Homo sapiens: one gene and its partners. The protein of the gene in region 2 interacts with the protein of the main gene of each other region in a pairwise test. Each region holds a gene or a part of one and is shown on either strand. Other genes may lie near its edges.

Evidence for each region.
Region 1: the proteins of EFHC2 (region 2) and EGLN3 interact in binary tests that used the Homo sapiens proteins (3 or more experiments, as listed by UniProt).
Region 3: the proteins of EFHC2 (region 2) and EDC3 interact in binary tests that used the Homo sapiens proteins (3 or more experiments, as listed by UniProt).
Region 4: the proteins of EFHC2 (region 2) and MTCL2 interact in binary tests that used the Homo sapiens proteins (3 or more experiments, as listed by UniProt).

Annotation. Positions count from the first base shown.
Region 1 is NC_000014.9:33,948,066-33,956,043, forward strand, and holds the start of EGLN3 (prolyl hydroxylase EGLN3), read right to left. Parts: upstream 3,010-7,978; 5' UTR 2,688-3,009; coding exon 2,331-2,687; intron 1-2,330. UniProt on the Homo sapiens protein: Prolyl hydroxylase that mediates hydroxylation of proline residues in target proteins, such as PKM, TELO2, ATF4 and HIF1A. Target proteins are preferentially recognized via a LXXLAP motif.
Region 2 is NC_000023.11:44,147,344-44,151,675, forward strand, and holds the end of EFHC2 (EF-hand domain-containing family member C2), read right to left. Parts: intron 1,554-4,332; coding exon 1,452-1,553; 3' UTR 529-1,451; downstream 1-528. UniProt on the Homo sapiens protein: Microtubule inner protein (MIP) part of the dynein-decorated doublet microtubules (DMTs) in cilia axoneme, which is required for motile cilia beating.
Region 3 is NC_000015.10:74,630,035-74,637,032, forward strand, and holds the end of EDC3 (enhancer of mRNA-decapping protein 3), read right to left. Parts: intron 5,593-6,998; coding exon 5,375-5,592; intron 2,913-5,374; coding exon 2,578-2,912; 3' UTR 524-2,577; downstream 1-523. UniProt on the Homo sapiens protein: Binds single-stranded RNA. Involved in the process of mRNA degradation and in the positive regulation of mRNA decapping. May play a role in spermiogenesis and oogenesis.
Region 4 is NC_000020.11:36,811,516-36,818,546, forward strand, and holds part of MTCL2 (microtubule cross-linking factor 2), read right to left. Parts: intron 5,955-7,031; coding exon 5,892-5,954; intron 4,793-5,891; coding exon 3,611-4,792; intron 1,330-3,610; coding exon 1,189-1,329; intron 1-1,188. UniProt on the Homo sapiens protein: Microtubule-associated factor that enables integration of the centrosomal and Golgi-associated microtubules on the Golgi membrane, supporting directional migration. Preferentially acts on the perinuclear microtubules accumulated around the Golgi.

The DNA of each region.
Region 1 (7,978 bases), on a different chromosome or scaffold from region 2:
AGTTTTTCTTGAAAACACGGGTGAAGGATGAACCGGTAAACTGGGTCTCTATCACTGCTCTGGAAAGCAGCACAAAATGAGGAGCTCAGCTGAGGGATAAAAAGTGAGTGAAGAAAAAGAAGGATAAATTAATGTGAAACCAATAAAAATCATGTAGAAATGGAAAGTGTTTCTACCATGACTTTAATAATGAACTTCAAACAAGAAACCCAAGACCACAAGACATCACTAAGGAGACTTCTGTATACAAGCAAAGCACACTTAAAAAAAATTTAACTACACTAGTTGTTTGCTCAAGCCTGGTTTGCATTTGGTTCTAATTGGCCAGGGAATATTCCAATCGAAAGGTGATTTATCTAAAGGGCAGGGAGCTTTGTGACAAACCAGCCAAAGTAAACCTGGAAATCTGGGGGTGGGACAGGATAAATTTTATTTTCAATTCACGATCACCTTCTGACAGGGTCACCTGGAAAGTTTTTCATTCCACCCAAAAGATAACCTAAAATTGATGAATCATATCTACAGGATCTTTCTTTCCCTTACCCTAACTTACACAGTGTTTTTCCTTCCATTTGAGTTAAATTCTAGTCTGAAACCCTATCCCTATCCATTAAGTCAAAGCTAAATAAAAATATTTAACTTTCAATGTTAGTGGCCTCTTTCCATACCAATTAATCCTGACCTCCCTCAGAGCAAATTCTGCTCCTAGAATGATGAAGAAAAACTCCTAACACCTAAATTTACAAGAAACATTTAAAAACCCAATAAGAAGCCGTCTGCTCTTCCAGGTAGAAACTACCAGCATCTCAGCAACACTGAGGCTGACCCTTCCCCTCCCCGACACACCTCCACCACAGAAGACAGCAAGGTCATTTAATGCAAAAATCAAACTAGTCAAAGACGAGTGACTAATCCACCACCAACATGATGGAAGAAGAATAAAGAAACACTTTAGCATCAATCTCCTACAGAGTTCAGCTCACGCGGAATTTTTTTCCCCAAAGTAAAATTTAGAAAGCAGTATCTTCTAAGATTTACTTTACTTGGGTGCATTAATAACGATGCTTTCAGATATTCTATTCATGGCCTCTTGGCTTGGAAGTTGTACGGCAAACTGTGACTCCCCACTGCACTCATCCACCTCCACCCCTTCACTCCCACACGTTTCCAATCCTCACCACTTAGCCTTTATTCAGAGTGTTCCTCTCAGCGTATTAGAGAAATGAGAGAACAATGGTCTGTTCTGAGACAGGATCAGTCTTGAGACTGATTTGAGAAATACTATATTTATTGTCAAAGAGTGGTACATAGGTGAGTGTTCATCTTCCCTCTCATGCCGGTATACTCTGCTTCGCTGTTTCAGTAAAAGTTTTCCGTAGTTCTGAACGTCCCTTGACCACACCATAAGACAAGCGCAAGTCACTCAGAATTGCCACTGGAAAACTGGCTCAACTATCATTTGAGGAAAGACTGAGAAAGCCTATCCCAAAGTAATGGACATGCACCAACATCGCGGTACCTACATGTTCCCGTTTTTCTGCCAATCTACCTGTGTTTCCAAGATAAATTACCACCCAGGGAGTCACTTCCTGCTATGTGAACAAAAACCCGGTTTCTTTCTGGAGGTGCTTGACTACTCTCTCGTGAGCACTTAACTGGTTGTTTTGAGTGGACTTTGCCATCAATTCATAGTTAGGAAAAGGAAGGTGGTGGTGCAGGGCTCAGCATCAGGAGAGAATTTTCAGTCAAGAAGATGGTCTAACAATGTGCTGGGTCCCAGGGGGCAGAAGCAGCATTCAGAAGTGGAGTTTTACCCTTTCACACCTGCCCAACTCCACAAACCAACTGCCACATGGCAAAATCACAACTGCCTCCAGAATTCTGAGTGCTTTTGTAGAAATCTCTTCTGACCACAATGAAGGGCAGTATTAGGTGGCTTTAAAGTAGGCATTTAAGATCATGAGGACACGTGTGTCTCAGATGATACACAGTGTTTCCAATACCCTTTCCCTCCTTTGGATCTTTGAGAACCTCGTCTTAAAATCGGACCACAGCCACAGCTTGTCTGGCTTTTGTCACCCACAAGAGCCAATATTTCAAAGTCAACAGAAGGTCATCATCATGGTTCACCTGAGCCCCTTAACGTTGACTTTCGCTCAGAGGAGCTGGGGCGAGGGGTGGGGGGAAGCAGCGAGTAGAGACAAACCAGGCTGACTTCTTGGTTAAAAAACAAAGTTCGCTTACGGCCCTGGGAAGTCGACATACAACGGACTCCGAGTGCCTCCCGTCCCCGCGGGAGCAGCTGCGGCAGGGCGCCGAGCGCGTCCTACCTTAGACCTCTCCTTGACGTAGTATTTGCCCAGCCGGCTCCCGCAGTAGAGGACCAGCCTGTCGATGAGGGACAGGAGGAAGCTGATGGCCTCGCAGCCCTCCTCGTTGCCCCCGATCCACGTGATCTGGTCGCCCCGCAGGTGTCGCTTGGAGACGCCGGCGCGCGGCCCCGCCAGCTGGCCGTCCCGCAGGGCCCCGGTGCAGTGCAGCTGCTTGACGCGCTCCAGGACGCAGTCGCCCACCACCTCGCCCAGGAAGTTGTCCAGGTAGCAGAAGCCCACCTCGTGCAGACAGGGCACGATGTACTCCAGGGCAATTTTCTCCAGGTCCAGCCTCATGATGTGTCCCAGGGGCATCTCGCCCGCAGAATCGAGGTCCGGGATCCCCAGCGTGCAACCAGAGAGGGAACGATCTACACGAGCGCGAAGCCGAGGCGCGGGGAGCGTGGCCCGGGGTTCAGAAACCTGCGGCTGCCACGGTACCCGAGCCGCTGCAGCGTCGGGGACAAGGGAAAGTTTCTCGCAACTCTCGGGAGAAGGGATCTGCCTTCGGGAACCAGCGGGAGTGGTGCGGAGCTCCACGACCCGTTTCCGGACTGGCCCGGCGAGCAGTGCGGCGCAAGGAGTCGGAGGGCGCCTTTTGGGGATGGGAAGCCACCACTGCCGCGACTGCGGCCAGACTCCGGGAGACGCTGAGGTCCGGCCCTTAAGCCGGCCGACTCCGCGCGTCACGGGCTCCGCCCCGGGACCGCCTCCGGGACCGCCCTTTCCCCCGCCCCGCTGCCAGTCACCCCCGCCTGCTCTGCCCCTCCGCGAAGGATCCCAGAGAGCCCGGCGCCAACCTTAGTTGTTTGTGACCAGGGGAGCGGCTGGAAAGCAGACTGAATTTTTAGAATGCGCTGGATTTGCATATTGTTTTGCATAAAATCACATAACAAACTTGAAAACCTGGATCCCACACTGAAAATGTAAATAGAATTAACTGCCACATTCTGGGTTGGTCACCTCATAGACTTTTGAGCAAAATAATAACCCCAAAAACGAATATATTTATTAAGCAGTGGTCTTGTTCTACCTTTACCGGGTGTCTTTCCTTATTTACCCCATTCCTCTGCTGTTTGACCCAGTTCAAGCCACTGAGAGATTAGGAGGTATCTAGTTTTAACTAAAATTAATGCATTAACGAATATTTCCCTCAGCCCCTACTGTGTGCAAGGCACTATGTGCTTGAGGAGCTGGGGATGAGCACAATGAAGAAATGCTGAGTCATATCTGATTGAACTCTGCAAATGGTGTATTTTGCTTTGCTTGATGTTTTCCTCTACTTACCTTTCAAGCTTCCTATTAAAATATGATGTTCCGAAATTCTACCTTCCAAATTAATCACATGCTTCTGTAACAGTCAGAGGTATGTCCCCCAAAAGATACACTGTATTCTAGGTCTCTCACTTTTCCCACAAGCAGCTGTACTTTCACAAGAGGGACAGACACCACTGAGAAGACTTTGGTTATCTACAGATAAGCTGATTTGCTTTATGGAGTTTTGATTCCCTTTCCTACTGAACACCAGCGATCAGAATCAGGAAAAAATTCATAAATTGCATGCAAAGCTATTTGTACTTCTTTAAAAAAAAAAAAAAAGGAACTGTATTTTTTTTATTTATTTATTCTGAGACGGAGTTTTGCTCTTGTTGCCTGGGCTGGAGTGCAGTGGTGTGATCTCTGCTCACCACAACCTCCGCATCCCAGGTTCAAGCAATTCTCCTGCCTCAGGCTCCCAAGTAGCTGGGATTACAGGCGCCCGCCACCATGCCTGGCTAATTTTGTATTTTTAGTAGAGGTGAGGTTTCTCCACATTGGTCAGACTGGTCTCGAACTCCCGACCTCAGGTGATCCGCCCGCCTCGCCCTCCCAAAGTGCTCGGATTACAGGCGTGAGCCACCGTGCCCGGCCTATTTGCACCTTTTTTACTTCATATGAGTGCACACTTGGGTTCTTCATTTAAGTTGAAGAAAAGAATGTACAGGTTTTTCGGGTATTGTTTATTGTGGAAGCAAATTTCTACAGCTTTTTCACTTTTCTTCTTCCTCCAGCAGCCCTCTCCTCTCTGCCTCTGAGGGGAGAAAGGGAATGACATCCAGGACAAGAACAAAGAATAGAAGAGGAAAGGTGCTGCTACAAGTTGGAAAGAAGCAGACAGAGGCACGTGGTTGAGTAAGAACCTGGGGGATGGTGAAGGAGAGCAGTCAATGGTGGAGTGCTTAAGAAACTTTGATGAAACTTCTAGTTATATTGAGAGAGGTTCTCTGCCAAGTCAGTGATTAGTTGGCACCTTTGGTATTACCTTTGAGCAGGAGGTACCCCTCCTTGGGGTAAAGGCCATCACTGCTCAAAGAGCTCTTGTCTAAATTCCCAAGGCAGCTCCATGATGAGAGGAGACCATCATCCTTGGAACCCCAGTGTTTAGCACATAGTGAATGGCTAATAAATAGTTACTGGGAACTCAATGTCTGACCCTGAGCCATAGCAGCCTCCACTTGGGATTCAGTATGTCTGGGCTTATCTGGAAGGATCTATTTGCAAAAGGGGCTGGGGAGCCTCCCCAAAGAGAAGTCACTGGAAAAGAGTCAAGCAAATTAGCCTGACCCAGCACAAAAGCTTAGAGGCCAGTGGAGGGAGAACTTAGGAGTTCTACAGGGCATTTGTCTCTCAGCTTTGTCTATCTGAGCAGTGGACATTTGAGTGGTGGGAGCCAGAGACATAAAGTGAAAACTGGAGGACTGTTAAATTGCAGCAAAGGGCCAGGCACAGTGGCTCACACCTGTAATCCCAGCACTTTGGGAGGCCGAGGTGGGCAGATCACCTGAGGTCAGGAGTTTGAGACCAGCCTGGCCAACGTGGTGAAACCCCGCCTCAACTAAAAATACAAAAATTAGCCACACATGGTGGCAGGCATCTGTAATCCCAGCTACTCGGGAGGCTGAGGCAAGAGAATCACTTGAACCCAGCAGGTGGAGGTTGCAGTGAGCTGAGATTATGCCACTGCACTCTTGCCTGGGTGACAAAAGTGAAATTTAGCCTTAAAAAAAAAAAATTGCAGCAAGGAGTGAAATGGAGTGCAGTACCAAAAAGGAGGAAAGCCCTCCTCTCTACTTCTGCTTGAACCCTGCACAGAAGGAACTGCTTTGCCTCCTGCAGTGATCTCCTCCAGGGGCACTATGGATAATGGGGTGACCAGGAGAAACCTGGTCTAAGACAGCCTGAATGTAGACCCTGGTTGGCATTGGGTCGTGCATTTTGCAGCTTTGGGGACTGTGTAAATCTCAGAAGTAGATATCCCTGAAGAGGGACAGAATCAAAAAGGGGGAAGGTGACAGATAATCCTTAGTAACTAGCTGAAATGTTTCTAGCTGGAGGCTTTTTGTAGATACACCTTATTCCTAGGAACGATAAGGAGGGAATTTACAAAGGAATGGAAACCTGCAATCACTGGTAGAGGGGTGGTGGTCAGTAAAATACAGAAAATTATACAACCACCTTCCAGAATGAACATGTTGACCCAAGACTTCAAATCCCAGGAGTGGGTAAATTTAGTTTACTGTTCAAATAATATTTCAATAATTTCACAGTAAAATTGTAACTCGTTATAACTAGAGCAATAGTCTAAGTGAGTCCTAGTGACAACTGTTCTAGATTATGTTGGTTGTAAAGCATGGGCAGTTTAGAAAGGAATTCAATCCCTTGGCACCATCCCTGCTTGGCAAGGGCACTCATTAATCAATCAAGGACCTCCCGATCAGCTTAGGGCTGCCAGCACTGCATTTGGCAGAGGAATCAGAGATACTGTGACTGGCAAAAATCAGAGTGTGTGATTGCACGGAGGAACACAGACAGGCTGGAGCCAGGCACAGGCTGTGGGTCTGAGCATCAGAGAGGGAAAACCCAAGCTAATTGTTAAAGTGCATTTGCTTTAGTTATTTGTCCACTAATTTGTGTCATAATAATGAATATTAAAATACCTTTCCATAATAACTAAAGCAAATTAATTTCCCTGTAATTTAATTACAGCAACATTGTCTTCCAGTGTGCATCTGCAGTATAGATGCAGTCATTTTCAAGCATGTGGAGGAGTAGGGGAGAAAGAAAAATGTTGAGTTTTCTTACCTTTGAATTTGAACTGGAAGAGATATTAGTGGTCACCTAGTTCAACTTCATTTTCCTACAGATGACGAAACCAAAGAGTCTCAGTTGAGTGGAAGAGGAAGCATGGGATGCTTCTGCCTTCTCAACTGTAACACTGTCCTATTTATATATGTATGCATTTTGACTTTAACGAGGTAAAATTCACAAAACATAAAATTTACGATTTTATAATGAACAATTCAGTGGCATTTACTACATTCGCGATGTTATGAAACCACCACCTCTCTCTAGTTCCAAAACATTTTCACCACCCCAAAAGAAAACTGTGCCTATTAAGCAGTTATTCCCCATTGCCTCCTCTCCCAAGCCCCTAGCAACCATCAATCTGCCTTCTCTATGGATTTGCCCATTCTAGATATTTCCTAATAATGGAATCATATAACCTGTGACCTTTTGTGACTGGCTTCTTTCACTTAGCATGATGTTTTGTACCATTTACCAAGATTTTATTTCTTTTTATGGCTGAATGATAATTCCACTACGTAGATATACCACAATTTGTTTATCCAGTCATCCACTGATGAGTATTTGGGTTGTTTCCACTTTTTGGCTATTATAATAGTGCTGTTATTAACATGCATGCATAAGTATGTTGAGTACCTGTTTTCAATTCTTTGGAGAATAGACCTAGGCATACAGTTTTGGGGGCATATGGTAATTTTATAACTCTTTCTTTTTTTTTTTTTTTTTTTTTGAGATGGAGTTTTGCCCTTGTCGCCTAGGCTACAGTGCAATGGCGCAATCTCGGCTCGCTGCAACCTCGACCTCCCGGATTCAAGCGATTCTCCTGCCTCAGCCTCCCAAGTAACTGGGATTACAGGCACCTACCACCACACCCAGCCAATTGTTTGTTTGTTTGTTTGTTTGTTTTGAGACAGAGTTTCGCTCTTGTCACCCAGGCTAGAGTGCAATGGCACCATCTCGGCTCACCGCAACCTCCGCCTCCTGCGTTCAAGCGATTCTTCTGCCTCAGCCTCCCAAGTAGCTGGGATTACAGGTGCCCGCCACCATGCCCACCTAATTTTTGTATTTTTAGTAGAGATGGGGTTTCACCACGTTGGCTAGACTGGTCTCAAACTCCTGACCTCAAGTGATCCACCCGCCTTGGCCTCTCAAAGTGCTGGGATTACAGGCATGAGCTACTGCGCCCGGCCTATGTTTAACTTTTTGGAAAACCACCAAACTGTTTTCCACAATAGGTGTACCATTTTACATTTCCAACAGAAATATGGGAAGGTTCCATCGTGTCCTTTTTTATTTCTGATGAAAAATGTCTACATGTCTTCTTTTCCATCAAAGTACTGCCATACCTGAGGTTCTCTTCCTCCTAGCTGGTATCTGAATATTTTGTGTGTGTGTTTTTACCATCCTATATCATCAGAAGGTTTATCATTATTTTGCATGACTTCACTGTGAGCAAAGGCAACCTTATTTATTGATCCATT
Region 2 (4,332 bases):
GAATGAAAAATCTTAAAGTGACAAAATGGCTTGGCACTGTCAGTTGCCTTAAAAAAAACCTGGGACAAAAATCAAGTAGTCAAATTTAGGATTTATGGTAGATAGTTTTAGTATATAAATTGAGTATACTAGTTTAGTGTTAAGTCCTGAAAGGGTTGGGAGGAGCGTCTATTCTAACAATAGCACATGTGGAATTATCCTAGGCTTACATATAGAAATCGTTTATTGATTAACTCCAATTTTTTAAAAATGAAAGGGCCATTGTTGTGGAGAATAAATTGGTACATTTGAGTGCCAAGAAGCCAGCAAGACACTGCTGCAAATGTGGAGTGAAAGAATAATGAGTCCGAAGGGTCCCTTGAGATGTCATCAGCTCTTCTTTTTCTCAGGGTAGTCCCTGAAAGGTAAATGGTGCAGCTCCTTTTTGAGACCTCCATTGTCTCCCAGAACACCAGGCAAATGGATTTATGATACATAGCATCCAACACTGAACAATGGCATAGACTGGGATAGACTTCTTACACTGAATTCCCAGAGGTACATGGCTATGGGTTTTAATCAAATGTACACTACATGACAAGAGTTCTGCTGAAGAAAAATAAAAATAGAACTAGAAAAATGCAGGGGAAAAATGTTGTAGTTTCTGAATATTTAAACCTCTAGGGTGGGGCGCGTGGGATGTGTGTGTAAAACAAACCAAAAAAAAAACAAAAATCTCAAAATCTTCAGCTTTCACATTTGTAAATATTTTAGACATAATAAAGTTTTGGTCAAACTATAATTATACACACATGCATATATTCCTAAGCTAACAAGCTGACTTTAGATAGAAAAAAGGGCATTACAAATATAAATACTGCATATGTTTCCAGTGTGTGTGCACGTGCGTGTGTGTGTGTGTGTGTGTGTGTGTTGGAGGTTCTTTTTCTTCCCATAGCTTTACTAAGTTCAAAAGATAAATATATTTACTCTAGAGAGGTTTAAGAATTATTTTGATGAGGTGGGTTGCTACAAAACTTAATTATGTAAGTAATAAACGTGTCAAAAAGGTTTCAAAAATGTTTAATAGAATCACAACTTATTGCTGTGATATAATTTGATTTTGTATTGTCATGTATAACCTTCAAAAGTCATTTTCTGTTCATATAGTAATGAATCAAATTATGTTGGATCAAAAATTATCAGAAGATTTTTTGGTATTAATAAACCATACATATAATAAAAATATTCAACATGTTTTAAGATGGCATTTTAAATAGTAACAGTACGTCGGCAATGTAACATGATGTTCTGTAAAACTAACATGACAAAATAGGATTAATTGTGGTTTATGGATTTCCATTTAATATAAACCTTGTTTCTTTTTTGTTTTTAATGAAATTATATCTACTAAAGTAAATGTGGCAAAATGAGAGAAGTAAATCATAGAGAATTGACCAAAACTGGCATGGTTATTCCTCCTCTAAGCCAAACGCGTCCTTCAAAAAGGTCCAGTAGTCAATGTATTTCGCAGGAATAGGTGATGGCATACCAAGCCAAACATCTTCACATCTCTAGAAAAAAACCAAAAATGGATATGATTAGAACCACATTTCAAAGTACAGTTTTGAAAATTCAACACCAGTTTATTTGCAAAGTGAAAATTTCTACCATCTACTTTAGGTTCATAAGGACTTTGTGGTCTACTGGATACTTGTTCTTGATTCTTCATTCCCTCCCTGTATAAGAATTATGTGCCCACACTCTTTGTCATATGACTCTGTAGAACCTCCTGTGGAGTAAGAAGGGTATATTTTCCTGTTCCTTTGATATGGGGTTGGCCACATGACTGGCTTTGACCTATGTACTATTAGCAGACATATCATGGACAGAGGCTCTAGCGTGCTGGCATCATTTGGCTTGGCCTTCTGTGCCTCTGCCATCACCATGAAAAGAACATGGCCCAGGATGCTGCTGTTCTTAGAATGACCAAGGTGGATCAGACCAGGCTGGACTTGCGGACTAAGAGCCAAGCTTAGCTGAATCCAGCCATGCTTCACTGACCTACATGCCCATAGACAAGAAAAAGAAATGTGTCTTGTTGTGAACCATTGAAATTTAAGGAGTTGTTATGCAGCATGAATACGCTGATAGATCCTCCTATACTTTCTTAAGAACCCAATTTTTATTTTTATTTTATTATTTTTTTTAAAGACAGGGTATCACTTTGTTGCCCAGGCTGGAGTACACTGGCACAATCTCTGCTCACTGCAACCTCCAACTCCCGGGTTCAAGTGATTCTCATGCCTCAGCCTCCCGAGTAGCTGGGATTACAGGCACATGCCACCATGCCCGGCTAATTTTTGTATTTCTAGGAGACGGGTTTCGCCATATAGGCCGGACTGGTCTGGTCTCAAACTCCCGGCTTCAAGTTATATGTCCACCTCAGCCTCCCAAAGTGCTGGAATTACAGACGTGAACTGCTGCCTAAAGAACCCAATTTTTAAAATACAAACTGGTATCTATACTGGCTGATTGGTTACTGTTTCTTCAGTAAACAATGAAAAGAACACTGGATCACTCACAGTATGATCTTGCAGATAAGCCACTTTATTTGTGTGTGTGTGTGTACACATATACACACACAGATGCACATTTTATATAATACATAAATACGTGTATATACACACACACAAACTTTTTGCATATGCCTCAATGGTTAATTAATATCAACAGGAGGCAAAGTTCATACATATGGTTGCTTATATTTCTACTTTCAAGGTTAAAATATGACTGTCAAGGTTAATTGTTGTATATAAGAGGTTCTATATCTTTACTAGTGTTACATTAGTATCCAGAATCACAAGGTGTCACAGAAACATAGGTAAAGGCTCAATAATTTGATGTGATGGAATTTTGGAAGCAAGCTGAATAAGTGGTGATTCAGTTGCACCTTATGGGATGAAAAACAGTTCAGCAGAGGGTTTAGGGTTGTGAAGGGTATTCCAGGCATAGGGACCAGCGTAAGCAAAGGCCTGGAGATCTAAAATCTATTTTCAAGAAAGGGTGAGTAGCCCAGTGTGGTTTGCGGCACATGGTGCAAAGTGGCAAGAGAGATGGTTAGAAGGAGAAGCTGGGGCCAAACTTCTGGCCTTCTGTGCTAGTTTATACTTGAGGCTGTGGTTAGGGGAAGTCACTGGTAGGTCTTGGCCAGGGAAATGACAGAAATCTGATTAGAAACTGATTAGCTAACTTGCTGGATGTACAGAGAATGACATGAAGTAAGAAAATCAATCTGGAGGTGAGTACTATAATACCGCAGAAAAATGACTGTGCCATAACCAGGGTGGCTGAAGCGGGCATGGAGGACAGGAGCTACTCTGAGAGATGCTGCTGCAGGAGAACATGAAATAGCTAGAAGGGGATCAACTTGAAATGGTGACAAAAGAAAGGTGTAGTGCTATGGGTTGAGTTGTGTCCTCATGCAAAAGAGTTATGTGAAGTCCTAATCCCTAGTACCTCAGAATGTGACCTTGTTTGGAAATAGGGTTTTTGCAGATGTAATTAGGTAAATTAAGATGAGCAAAATGAGATCATACCGGAGTAGGGTGGGCCCCTAATCCAATATGACTGGCCTCCCTATAAAAAGACAGCCAGGTAAAGACAGAGACACACAGGGGGAACACCAGGTGACCATAGAGGCAGAGATTAGAGGTTTGCAGCTGCAAACCAAGGAACGCCAAAGATTGCCAGAAAACCATCAAAGTCTAGGAAGAGGCAGGGAAGGATTCCCACACAGGTTTCAGAGAAAGTATGGCCCTGCTGACACCTAGATTTTGAACTGCTAGCCTCCAGAACTGTGGAAGAATAAATTTCTATTGTTTTAAGCAACTCAGTCTGTGGTACTTTGTGAGGGCATCACTAGGAAACTAATACAGGTAAGGATGGTTCTAAGAATTCTAAATTCAGTAATAGTTGACAGTGTCTGTTATTAGTTTCCTGGGGCTGCCGTAACAAAGTACCACAAAGTAAGTGGCTTAAAGCAACAGAAACTTATTCTTTCACAGTTCAGAAGGCCAGAAGTCCAAAACCAAGGTGTTGGCAGCGTTGGATCTTTCTGGAGGCTCTAAGGAAGAATTTATTCCATGCCTCTCTCCTGGCTTCTGGTGGTGGCTGGCAGTCATTCCTTGGCTTGTAAGCACATCACTCCAACGTCTGCCTCCAACTTCACATGGTGTTCTCTGTGTATACCAATATGTCTTCACGCAGCTTTCTTATAAAGTCACCAATCAATGCATTTAGGGTCCACTCTAATCCAGCATAACTTCATTTTAATTAATTATATCTGCAAAG
Region 3 (6,998 bases), on a different chromosome or scaffold from region 2:
TGCCCAGCTGCCAGAAAGCACAGATTTGACCCAAGCTATTTATATGTTATAAAGTTATAATAAAGTGTTTCTTACTGTTTGTAACCCCTGGTACCAGTGTGTCCATCTCCAGGCTCCTTGCCTTCCCCTTACCTGACCTTATTAATAAAGTCTTTCTTAGCAGTTCAGCTTGTGGAGAGCTAAGTGTGAACTGGGCCAGGCACAGAAGAGCTAGGCAGGGGTAAGACCAGAATTGGGGACATCCTCTGGGCCCAGGCTGCTGAGCAGTCCTAGATGGCACCTCTGCCCTGCTGGCTTCTGTACCTCTCAGCCCCAGAGAACCTAAGGGAATCAGCCCACCGTGGCTAGCCAGGTGGGGTCTGGTTTTCCACAGCCTGCCAGTCCCATTACTGGCCAGGACTTTAGGCTGTATGTGCCCAACAACTATGGCCTGCTGAGGGCAGGAGACGAGTGGGGCGGGTTCCTAGGCTGGGACAGACAGCACCTCATGACAGCCTACAGAGCAAGTCACACGGCACAGGACTCAGTCAGTCATTCAGCTTTATTTCAGTGCTGGTTTTTGGTTCCCTAAGAGCTGCATGAGTGCTAGGCTTCACCACGTGACTGGGGGCCCCTTGGGAACTGGGTACTATGGGCAGGATGCCCCTGAAAAGAACTGAAGACAGAGGAATCATACTTCTCTTTAATACCTCTGGGGAAGGCCCAGGCTAAGGATGAGGGCAGGGACCAGTCCCAGTGCCCCCTGGGGAGAGAAGAGGGAGAAGCTTGGGCACAAACTCCCAGTGGCCCTGCAAGGCTATCATCCCTGGATCTTGCTGGAGTGGACAGTCTTCTGGGCCAGGGTTGTTCTAGCTTGTTTCTCACTGTACCTAATCAGGGGGCCTAACTGCATTAACAGGCAGCCAGAACCTACCTACCAAAAAGCCTGTAACCTAGACTGCTCCTCAGATTTTGGCCAAGAGAGGGCCCCGGCTTGGGAGCTGCTTGGCCCTGAGAGTGAGCAGAGGCTCAGAGAATACACAGCACAAGGGTTACAGTCCCTGGCCTCTTCCCATCGCTGGAGACAATTTAAGACTGAAGGGAAGATGAGAGGAGGGGCCAGCCCTCTACCCTGGCTCATCTGCTTCTGGCTATGTTCCTACAAGGGAAGTGATAACAGCCTGAAACCCGTGGTACCAGGGCCTACCCTATGTCCACAATCCTTGGTGAGCCCTTCTGTCCACCCATCCACCCGCTCAGCCAGCCTGGGCAGACACAGAGCAGAAGCAGCCTGAAGCCCTGAAGCAGGCTTAAACACAAGTCCTTGACAGGAATCCCTGCCAGGATTCCAGGCATAGATCCTGTTCTACCAGCCTCCAGGGCCTAGAGCTTGGCACCTTAGGATTTGAGCATCAGTGTGTTCCTATGGTTGGAACCCACACCAGCTAGCTCATCCAGAACTAGCCTCATTTTGCCATCTTTGAGACAGGGTGCTGGCCCCAAGCCTACTCATCTAGACTGGACAAATGTAAAAGGTTCAAAGCCCAGATGATGTAAGAGCTGGGGTGGAGCTCAAGCACGGGAGCCCATCTGCCTGCTCTGGGATGACAGCTGCAAAGGACCGTTTCAGGGGAAGGGCAGAGGGGATGAAAGAGTAGGTGGGGCATGTATGTGCGGGCAAAGGGCTGGAGGAGTGGTGGCCTAGGACAGAAGCACCAGGAAGCCTCTTCTGGTTCAGCACCAGGCTCCCCCAGGGATATCCCCATCTGAGGGGTCTGGCCCCAGACTAGGCAAAGGCTCAACCTGCTCAGCTTTGAGGGTGGGGGCGGGCACTGCTGGCAAGATGGGCACTGTGGTTCTACAGTAATATAACCTTATACTACCTGTGCTGAAGACGACAGAACAACATAAAATCCCAATACAGTAACACCATCCTAATGCCGCCCCCTTCCCTACCTCTGAGTGATGGAGGGAAAAGGAGGGAGAGATCCTTGGAAAAATCAGCATAAAACTTGGATCAGCTCAGGAGTAAGGGTCAAAACCCCCCAAATCAACTTGTGGGGCTAGGGGAAGGCCTGGTCTGTCACAGCCCTGGACATGAATGGAGAGTGCAGGTCTGCCCTCTGGTGGACAGCTGCCGTGCAGCTGGTTCTACAGAGGAAGGGCTGTCTGCGTGGGGAAAGCAGGGGAGACACAAAGCCACAAGCTCTGAAATAGAGCAGGTACAGGCCCCCAGACAGGACCTGGCCCACTCTTCAATGTGTGTGCCCAGGCCCAGTGGCTGTAAACCTGAAACACAGTCTTGAGAGCTGCCTACGGCTGTAAACAAAGGCCCACCTGGCCGTGCAGGGGGCTGAGGGTAGAGATGCCTGGAGTTGCTGCACGCTCAGCCTGCCACCCAGCCCGGAACCCAGTGGGAAAGACTTCCCTGGCTAAGAGCAAGTGACAGGTCAGTTTTAAGTAAGTTCTGTTCTCTCACAGAAGAAACAAACCCAAAAGAGAAAAAACTTTAACAAGGTCCATGAAGCTTCATATCCTTAAGGCGTTTGTTATCAGGAGCAGCAGGGGACAGCAGAGTCCTGCCTGCGCAGGAACCCTCTAAGCAGAGTGCAGTGGGATAACAAACTTGCAGCCAAAGGGCGAGTGGTAGTTGATGCCCACCTCCTGGAAGACCTGCTGGGGAATGCCAATGTCGCACAAATAGATACGGCCTGCGTGCTCCCCCAGTGGCAGAGGCAGGCCCAGTGCCAGTGACCATTTGGCATCAATGCCCTGTTCGACTTCATGCACAGGAGGGTCTATGCTGAGTACTGGTGCCCGGTTCTGGTTGGCCCAGGCCACAGCTGCCTTGTACCAGGGTTGATCGCGCAGGAAGACGTTCTCAGGGCAATCCAGGCAGTTGATGACCAGGTCCACAGGGCTAGTGGGCAGATCTGCAGGTGGAAAGAGTGCCATCTGAAAGTCCCTATGAGCAGAGAGCAGCCCAGGCTGGGACTAGGGCCCAGGTCACCCCAAGGGTGTCTTTGTTTTCCAGACACCACTCGAATGCCTCTCCAAAGGCTGGCCTTCTTAAAGCTGGGCCAGGGCACAGGCCCTAGGAGTTGCAAGCTGGCTGGGCTGAGTGCTAGAGACCAAGTGCATGTCAGCCCAGCAGACCACTGCCCTCCTGGAGTTCTCAGGATGAACCATTGTCGTCCTGAGTGTGCAGAGCTTCTCAGGGCACAAAGCCCTCACCTCCTCTGCCTTCTCAGGCATGCCTCTGTATATCCAACTAATGCCCTGGGCACCTTATGACCTCTGGGAAGGCAGAGTCCACTGTCAAGGTGGCCATCACAGGGAAACCCCACTCAGGTCCAGCAAAAACAGGAGCTGACTGCTATCTGCTGACCCAAGAAGGGTGAGCAGGTGAGAGCATGCTTATTCTATTCCAGCTGGCCTACTCATTCTACTCTAGCAAGCCTGTCCCCTCTCGTACTCATTATCTCACAGGAATGGGTCCTCCACTCAGCCCAACCTTAATTAAGAATTAAGAGGGAACCTATTACTATTCTCCCAGGCTCCTCTGCTCTAACCAGGCTTCTGGGACAGTATTAGAAAAGGATGTCTCAACAAGTATGTAGATCCTGTACTGGCCTAAGAAGTTAAACTGAGAATAGCATAAATCAGACCAAACTTAATGGTCGTTGAGACTTGTGTCCTGGAGCAGCTGGGATAGGAAAACTTTTGGGCAGCAAGAGGAAGAACTGCCTGGAAGGGGGCATCATGTTAAAAATTACAAGGGGAACCCACACCAGGCCCCCTTCCCAGCTCTCAGCCTAGAGTATTAGCATTTCTCAGCTAGAGACTCACAACTTCCTTGCTTAGAATGTGCCACCGGGGGGAGTCCCTGTGGGTGATGAGGCTCTCAAGAGTGAGAGTGGCATCCTATCTTCTGTGTGCCCACAGGAGCCTGGCCCGAGACTTAGCAGGTGAAGTTTCTGGTCCAGGCTTTGCCCTTGACTCACTATGTGACCTCTGGTGGAGTCCCTTCTCTGGGCCATATTTGCTCTCTCCAATTCTTCTCCCTGCTGTTCTCATTTAAACCCATTCCAGTCAGACTCTGTCCCTACCACTCCACTTAAGACCACTCATCAAGCTCACCAGGAGCCTCCACAGAGATGCTAAATCCAGTGGTCGATTCTGTCTTCCTTTGACCTTAACCTAGAACGGGGCTTGCTGACACACTGACCACATGCTCCTTTCTTCACTTGGCTTTCAGCTACCATACTCTCCTGGTTTTCTTCCTCCCTCACTGACCATTCCTGTCCCATCTCCTTGGTTAGGCTCTTTACTCCCTGACTTCTAAATAAAGAGCTCAGTTTTCCAACTTCTGTATCTACTCTCTTCCTATGTGACAGCATATCCAGGCTCCTCATGGCTTAAATATTCCCTATGGCTTGTAACTCTAGGCTGAATCCTTTCACTTCAGATTCATATAACTCGTTCCCTATCAACATTTCCACCTGCATATCCAATAGGTGTCTCAAGCTGAGCTTCTGCTGTTCCTCCCCAAACCTTCTCTATCAAGTTTTCCCATCTCAGTGATCGCACCTCAGTTACTGAGGCCAAAAACTTTGGAGCCATTGCCAACTCTTCTCTTTCTCCCACCCCCCATACATCCAGTCTGTGGATTCTATCTCCAAAACTGATTTAGAAACTAACTACCTTCACCACCTCTGGCACTACCACTCTTGTCTTAGCCACCATAATCTCTCTCTCCCATGATCACAACAGCATCTTGACACTTCTCTGTACTCCTCTGTGTAGTCTACTCTCAAACAGCACCCAGAATGATCATCTGGAACCTAAATTTGATTATATCATTTCTCTACTTATTCCTTCAATGACTGCCCATCTCACCAGAGTAAAAGCCCAAATCCTTGTGGTCATCCCCAAGGCCCATCATGACCTGACCCTGAAATGTCCAAGTCTCCTACTCTCCACCCAGTCCTCCAACATGCCTCCTTTCCCTGCTTTGTTTTTATCCACATCACTTACTACAACTACACAAGTATGTTACATGTCTTTTTGTTCCTCCTAACCAGAATATAAGCTCCACAGAAGAATGGATTTAAAAAAATCTGTTGCCATATCCCTAGCATCAGGAAGAGTGCCTGTTCAACGAATATTTGTGGAATGGACCAATGGGTCCCCAGCTCTTCATGTGAGTAGTTGGAGAGGGAGAAGCATAAGGGGATGGGAAGTAGTATATTACTGTTCTAAGACTCCTTAGAGGCGAAGCACCATCCTTACACACGTAGTGCCTTTCCACCTGTCGCCACTGGGTGGCATGACGAGACCATCAAACTGCTAAGGAGGGAGGAGGCCTTCAGCCCAGCCCTGCCTAAGTGCTCACCTTTGAGGCTAGACACTTGTTGGCCTTGGGTCTTGCTGAAGAGCGACAGCTCATTGGTGATAGATTCCAACATCTTGACAAAATTGGGCAGGAAAAGGATGACCTGGACATCATGGTTGGCTAGGTGCCTTCCACAGCTGATACCCTGAGCCCCCTTCACATGAGGTCCACACAGTAGAGCCACTGTAGGCCTCTGGTGAACATTTTTGGGATTCAACCTGGAAAAGAAGGTGAAGAAGCAGTATCAGCTACATACTTGCCAATCCCTTGCACCCTATACCAGACAATTGCCTGTAGCACCTATTGGTCTCAGATCTCTTACCCACTGCTCACCAAGTCCCAGGCTCCAGAGGGGGACAAAATCCACTGCAGGCCAGGTCTATAGGGTGGCACTCCTGTTGTCCCAAACCCCAACCTCACATCATTGCTGGGTCCTCCCACTAAGTGGTTCACCCAGATCTTGCTCCACACAACACTGTTGCCACAACACCGCTTTGCTGACCCATGAACACTTAATAGTTCCTCTGCAGCCTTGTCTGCTCTTCTTCCCCAACGTGTCTGCTTCACTCCAGCAGGGCTGGTCTCATCCTCTCCTGCACTTGTAAGGCTCTTTCCTGCTTATGCTCAAACTACATCCCCTGCCCAGAAAGCCTTTCACTTTCCAAACTCTGAACCGCCTTTTCTTGGAGATCCAGTTCAAGACTTACCTCTGCTGGGATTACTCTGGCTCATGCCTTTACCTCTCCTCAACTCCTAATAAGCTCACAGCAAGTACCATAGCTCTCCATTCTCCTCAGTCAGTTGCCAATGGTTCTCTTTACTGAGCTTAGTAGCTTACTGAAGTTAATGAAAGCAATGCTGCAGGCATTAACAGTATCTATTTCATAGGATGCTGTGCAGATTATCGGATGCCCAGCACTTAGCAGTGCCTAACACAAAGAAGGTAAGGTACTCAGTCAGTGCTGACCATGGCGGAGGCAGCAGGCCAAGGGTTACCTGGCCTCCTAGGCTAGCAGCTGCCTTGGATGAAGTTGTCACTTCCAGTTTTCTGCTATTCAAAGCTGAGACTCCTCTAGACTCAGAGAAGCCACAAATAAGGAGATAAAGAGGATTAGCCCCAGAGCTGTGCCCAACTCATAGGCAGCACAGTTGGCTCACGGGGCAGCAATGTAGGGAGGAGATGGACGGCAAGGCCATAGGTCCCTGCCTAGTGGCAGAGCAATGATAGTCACTTACCGGTTTCCCAAAGGGAGGAAGATGACAAGATGTTGTCAAGCTAAGAGGAGCTTCATAACTGCCCCCATTCCCAAACACATTTTGGAGAATTTAACAATCTACTCTATATTCCAGACACCAAACCATTCGCCTTCCCATTTCTGCATTTAGAGGAAATATGATGAGAATTGCTCCCTTCAGAGGATGCTGCAGAGTTGTGGAATCTGACTCACTTTGTTCTCTAAAAGGGTTCTTCCTCTCAGGGAGAACCTCTCCCACCCCCAATCAAAAGAAGCAGAGCATGGCATTCACACACCCAGCGGCAAGGTGTAGAGTATATGGGCACTGGAAATGGACCTATGTGGATTAGAGGCCTGGCTGGACTGTGTACCAGCAGTATCATGTGGGC
Region 4 (7,031 bases), on a different chromosome or scaffold from region 2:
CTAACTGGGAGGGCTGAGGCTCGAGATTCGCTTGAACTCAGGAAATGGAGGTTACAGTGAGCCAAGATCGCACTACTGCACTCCAGACTGGGCAACAGAGCGAGACTCAGTCTAAAAAAAAAAAAACAAAAAAAAGAATAGGCCTATTTCCTTTTCTTAGAAAATGACAACTAAGTTATCTCAGTTTTTTCTCTTTTTGCCATGGCTTCCAGGAAGCTCACTTAGAGAGTCTGATCCATCAGCTTCAAGTGAGCTTCTCCTTCCCACATAGTCATGGGCTGACCTTCCTGGGACTACAGAGTTGTCTTCCAAGAGATGCTCAGAAAGGTGCTCAGGCTGGAAAATACATAGGACTCTGCAAGGTTCAGGGTTTCAGGGATACTCCACCCAGTCCGTAGGAGCCTTTTCCTGCTTCAGGCTCATTATGAAGAGCAAGGAGAAGCTCAGCAGGCTTAGAAGGGGCTCAGAACTACCCAGAATTCCCTGAGGATCAAAGAATCCTAGCAATTCAATAACTACCATTCACTCTAACCCTCCCGTTACAGATGGGGAAGCTGTGGCCAGAAGGTAGAAATCTGTCCAAGGTCACACAGGAACACTGGTAGAACTGAGACTTGAACTCAGGTCCCCTGAGTCCCAGAGATGTGTCATTATCATCATAATCATCCTCCTCCTCCTCCTCATCCTCACCCAATGTGGACCATGCCTTAAGCTATGGCTTTTCATGTATTTAATCCTTTCAACAACCCTGTGAGGCACCTTCATTTTACATGTGAGAAAACTGAGAATCAGAGAGGTAAAATGACTTATCCAAGATCTCACAGCCAGAATAGAGTGGATCCACAATTGAAACCCAAACTGCCTGGCTATAGAGACTGCTGCCTTCCTGCTACATACATGAGTAGTTCCATTAAATTACATAAATTGTTAAATTCCCAGTGGAATTTAGTACAGAAGAAAAAATAATTTATGCAGATGAGTTTATAAGTTTCCTTGGATCAGGCCATGAGAATGTCCCAAACTTCCTTATTTCCCTTCTGGCCTTGGCTGCCAAGAAGCCTGGAACCAAATGGAATGCCCCAAACCCATATCCTCACCAGCTAAGTGATATATGGACCACTCTGCTTTTGACAGGGCTCAGTCACTCTCCTCCTACCCAATCCCATGCTTGCTCAGGCCTAGACCCACCTCAGAGGCATAGGAATCATTGTCTTCAGCTCGGTAAGGCCTGAAGCTCCGGCTGGGGTCGGGCTTAGAGTCCAAGTCACCAGTGCGGAAAGCCTCTCGGATCCTGGGCTCCCATTCCGGCAGGTCCCTGAAGTCAGGTGGCTGCACCCAGAGGCACAGGCAGAACAAACCAAAGATCACCATGGGGAGGGGCCCGAGGGGTGCCAGAAACACCCACCCCAGGCCTCTGCGCTCCCTAAGAGGCTTGAACCACCCACCTGAGGGCTGGGACCCTGGTAGATTCACCTCTGCAACCCAGACCCAGCCCCAGCTGGGGGCACTGCTGCCGTTTAATGAATGTTTGCTGAAAGGATGAATGAGTAGGTAAGTGCGAAGTGATTTTCTGAATGTGTGCCTTGTGCACAAACCTTTTGAGTCAGCCCAAACTGTCCTATCACATGTGTGACCTCTGTTCATCCCTCTTTCAAGAAGAACCAAAAGGGAGATAACATAGAGCAGTCTATGGGCACAGTGGCATGTGCCTGTAATTCCATCTACAATTTGAGGCTACAGCGAGCTGTGATCATACCATTGCCCTCCAGCGTGGGCAACAGAGCAAGACTGTTTCTTTAAAAAAAAAAAAAAAAAAAAAAAAAAGGCAATGTGCTTGCTTAAAAAAGCAAGATGAAACCGGATCAACAGGTCTTGAGTTAAAGAAATTATGGCACATATCCACTGTATAGTTGTTAAAAAGAAAGTGCTAAATCTCAGAAGGGCACGATGGCTCACACCTGCAATCCCAACACTTTGGGAGGCCGAGGCAGGTGGATCACCTGAGGTCAGGAGTTCAAGACCAGCCTGGCCAACATCGTGAAACCCCATCTCTATTAAAAATACAAAAATTAGCCAGGTGTGGTGGGGCATGCCTCTAATTCCAGCTACCCAGGAGACGGAGACAGGAGAATTGTAATTTCAGCTACCCGGAAGGCGGAGACAGGAGGCGGAGGTTGCAGTGAGCTGAGATCGTGCCACCGCACTCCAGCCTGGGCGACAGAGTAAGACTCTGTCTCAAAAAAAAAAAAAAAAAAAAAAAAGATAAAAGAAAAAAAGAAAGTGCTAAATCGCTCTCTTTCCCTGGAAATGAAAAATTCCCTGCCATTGCTCTGAGGATGAAGATCAAACCTCCCGCATGCTCAGTGCAGTCCAGCTTCACATTGTCTCTTCACTCAGTGTCCTGGACACACCACGCTCCTTCCGCCTCTGATCTGAGCTGTGTCTTTGCACAGGCTATTTGCTCTGCTGAAAACACTGTGTTCCCCCAGCCATCCATCCCTCTGACCTCTGGTCAGATCAGAGGCCTTCCCTCAGCATAGGGTCTAGGTCAAGTTCCTTGTTCATAAAACCATGTACGCTTCCTTCAGATTCCTCTCTCAGTGTCTAATTGCACATTCACTGACATGATATTTTGGGTGACTCTGCCCCACTAGATGATAAGGACCATGAGAGGGGGAATCATATCTGTTTTTGCTAATCATGACATCTTCAGCAGTGAGCACAAAAACTGTGTGAACAACAGACAAGGCATCATAAATTAACAAACTGATACATTGCGTTAAAAATATAAGTTGTGTAGTAACAATAGATATAAAGCAATCTGGGTGGAAAAACAAATATATGATAGATGTGTAGAGAAGGATTTAGAAGGACAAGCTGCAAGGATGAAATATTCTAGATCCACTCTACTAGACACACACAAATACTGAACATTTAAAATGTGACTATTAGGCCACACACAGTGGCTCACACCTATAGTCCTAGCACTTTGGGAGGCTGAGGCTGGTGGATCACTTAAGCTCAGGAGTTCAAGACCAGCCTGGGCAATATGGCAAGATTCCATCTCTACAAAAAAATTTAAAAATTATGGCCAGGCACAGTGGCTCACACCTGTAATCCCAGAACTTTGGGAGACAAAGGCGGTCGGATCACTTGAAGTCAGGAGTTCGAGACCAGCCTGGCCAACATGGTGAAACCCCATCTCTACTAAAAATACAAAAATTAGCCAGGCATGATGGAGGGCGCCTGTAATCCTGGCTACTTGGGAGGCTAAGAGAGGAGAATCGCTTGAACCTGGGAGTTGGAGGTTACAGTGAGCCGAGATTGCGCCACTGCATTCCAGCCTGGGTGACAGAGCGAGACTCCGTCTCAAAAAAAATAAAAAATAAATAAAAATTAGCTGGGTGTGGTGGTGCTCACTTGTAGTCCCAGGTACTCAGGAGAGTGAGGGGGGGAGAATGGCTAGAGCCCAGGATATCGAGGCTGCAGTGAACTGAGATTGCACCACTGCACTTCAGCCTGGCCAGCGGGGAGAGACCCTATCTCAAGAAAAACAAAACAAAACAAAGGAAAAAAATAAATAATAGGATCTGTGCATGAGGCACCTTACCTGAAAGTCTGAGCCAAGGTCTTTTGCCAGAAGAATCTCCTTAGAGAGCCCCTGGGAGCCCAAGGGGGGCAGTGATGAGAAGGACTCCTGCTGTTCCTTGACAGAGCACCCGAGGACTGCATCTGCCTTCCGCGTGAAGGCATTCAGCTCCTGCTGCAGCACGCTCAGGCGCACCAGGATGGCATGGATGAGCTTGGTGTCCCTGGGGCCCTCGCTGTTGTCGGGGGCCTCATGCAGCCGGAAGTCAGCACACTCGTTGTCCAGACACAGCCGGAGGCCAGCCGTGAAGCCATTGGCATCAGCCACCAGGACATCGATGGCCTTACTGACCAGGGCGGCCTGCTCTCTCAGCCCAGGCAGCACCTCGGCCTCCCTGGCTCTGCAGAGTCGGACCGCATGGGACTCGTGTGTCTCGCCCAGGGGAGCAGGCACACACTGGGCAGAGTCCCCGGCCTCGGCGTCCGTCTCCAGCATGGGCCGCGTACTCTGGCAGGAGGCGAGGTCACAGCGCTGGAGGTTGGAGAGGAGCACGCGGTTCTCGTACTGCAGCTTCTTGACCTTGCCGCTGAGCTCGCCGATCTGCAGCTTGGCGGCCGCCAGCTCCTCCTGTGAAGGTTCGCTGAGCACAGAACAACTGTCCTCCGACAGCGCCACGTCCAGCTCGTGCTCCGAGCGGAACTTGGCCAGCTCGTTCAGCAGCAGCTTGTTCTGGTCCTCGAGCTCGGCAGAGGAGCGCCGCAGCAGCTCGGCCTCCTCTTCGACAAACTGCAGGTGTCGCCGCAGCTCTGCCAAGCTCTCCCCGCACTCTCCGCCACCCAGCGCGGAGAAGGCCAGGCGTGCCTCAGGACCCCCACAGCCACCTCCATGATCCTTCATGTCGTCCATCTCAGCCCGCAGGCCTCGGTTCTCCACCTCCAGCTCCACGATGCGGCGGCTCAGCAGGTTGGCTTCCTCCTCCACCAGCTTCAGGTGCACCTTCAGCTCGGTCTCCCGCGAGTGGGGGGCATCGGCCAGCTCCTCGGCTGACAGCGCGCTGTCCAGGTCCCCATAGAGCGAGCGGTACTTCAGCAGCTCCTCCTTCATGCTGTCATTCTCCTTGGCAAGCTTAGTGAGCTTCTTGCACATGAGGGCTGACTCCTCCTTTGCAAAGTGCAACTGGCACTTCAGGTCTGCACTGTCCTCCTGGGACCACAGAGACAGACACAACCCAGGAAGGTTAGTGCTGGGAGTCTCAGTACCAGCCATGGCATTTTGGGGAGCACTATGTGCTGGGAACACAGGGATGAATCAGACACAGCCAGACCCTCAAGGAGCTAAGGGTCCGGGGGAGACGCAGAGGGGTAGATGTTGAAATGACAGCAAGGATGGGGCGCCACACATAGCCTGGGAGTACAGGAACAGGTGACATACTGATGAGCAACTGCTGCCACTACAGTTTCATCAGTAAAATGGGGCGGTAACATTACCTCCCTCCCAGAGCCACAGACGGGATTAAATGAGCTAAGGATGAAAAGGGCCTGGCACTCTGACAATCCCATACCACTAGGAGCTAACGGTATGTGGCCTTTGCTGCATATAGTACTTCATCCAATTCTTCCAATGAACCCCCAAGACAGGGATAGATAGGAAATGGAGCCCAGAAACTCAAAATGACTCGCTCCAATCACATGGCAGTCAAGTGGCAGAGCCAAGATTCAAGCCTGGGTCTCCAACTCTAGACCTTTGGATTTGACTGTAGTGCTGCTTGCTAAGTTCCTGGCTGGGGTGGGGAGCGAGCATCTAAGCATCTAAGAACCATGGGCTCAGGATGTGGTTTTGGGAAATAAAGTGGGCAGTGAAACTAAGAAAATGAGCAAGGGGGCCGGGCGCAGTGGCTCACACCTGTAATCCCAGAACTTTGGGAGGCCGAGGCAGGTGGATTGCTTGAGGCCAGGAGTTCAAGACCAGCCTGGTCAACACGGTGAAACCCTGTCTCTACTAAAAATACAAAAATTAGCCAGGTGTGGTGGTGCACGCCTGTAGTCCCAGCTACTCGGGAGGCTGAGGCATGAAAATTGCTTGAACCTGGGAGGTAGAGGTTGCAGTGAGCTGAGATTGTGCCACTGCACTGCAGCCTGGGCAAGAGAGTGTGACTCCGTCTCAAAAAAAAAAAAAAAAAAGAAAAGAAAAAAAGGAAAATGAGCAAGGGGAGGACAGGGCAGAATCTGGGATCCCCAGGCCACTTAGAGTCAGGCTCAGGTCTTCAGAATAAAACCTTCCTACGGGGGCTGCTGGGAATTACCTGCACCAAAGTCTTCTTATCGGCCTTCCCCAGGGAGCGGGTTCCTCTTTTCTTCAAGGAATGCTGAAGTGAGATTTAATTAAAAAAAAAAAAAAAAGTCAGGACTGAAAGCTCACAGAATGATGCACATGCAGAGAGCTGTCACAGTGCCCAGGGTCCAGGGAGGGCCCCAGTCCCCAGGCCACCCCACCCTGATGGCACTGACTGTTGAGTAAGAGGAGCCCTCCAGATCACCCAGTGAGCAGCAATGGGAGATAGGCCAGAAGCATTGGAGAAGATGATTCTAAAAACACCTGCTCAGGGCTCCTCCCCTCCAGCCTGCTCCCATGTGTGACCCAGTTGGCCTCGGCGAAGACTTGGAAAGCTGTGTTTCTGTTCTCATTTGTCTTTCATCAAAGGATTTCCTGAGCACCTATCAAGCGCCAGGTAGGTAGGTGTAGAGAACACAGCAGTGAACCAGGGAGGATGTTGTGGTGCTTTGCCCAGATTCCCCTTCGGAACTGAGACACTCATTCCCAGAGCTGAGACCTCAAAGCTGAGTACCTCTCCCAGCGACAGCCATTGGTTGAGGAGAACCACCTTGTCCAAGGGCAGGTGCTATCCGTGGATGGAGCCCACATCCAGGGATGGGTCCATGACCCCTTGCCTCAGCTCTACAGGGAGGGCCATCCTAGCTCCAGAGCTCCCCATGGGATCGCCTGAGATCACTGGTGTAATTCAGCTTCCAGCTCTGCCTCACTCCCTGTGGTGTTGTTCCCAAGGAGACTCTTCCATAAACCTCTGCATGCAAATCTCCATCTCAGAGAAAATCCTGTCTTCATGAAACTGACATCTAGTGGGAACTGTAATTCAGAATGAATACTAATGGATAAAATGAATATGGAGGCTGGATGTGGTAGTTCATGCCTGTAATCCCAACACTTTGGGAGGCCAAGACAGGAGGATTGCCTGAGGCCAAGAGTTTGAGACCAGCCTGGCCAACATAGCAAGACCCTGTCTCAAAGAACAAACAACAACAATAAAATGAATATAACAAATCGTAATTACACATGAGGCTTAGAAATGGTCATAAGAGACTGATGGCAAACAGTGATTCAAAAATCCAGAAGCTGGTCTGGCATAGTGGCTCATGCCTGTAAT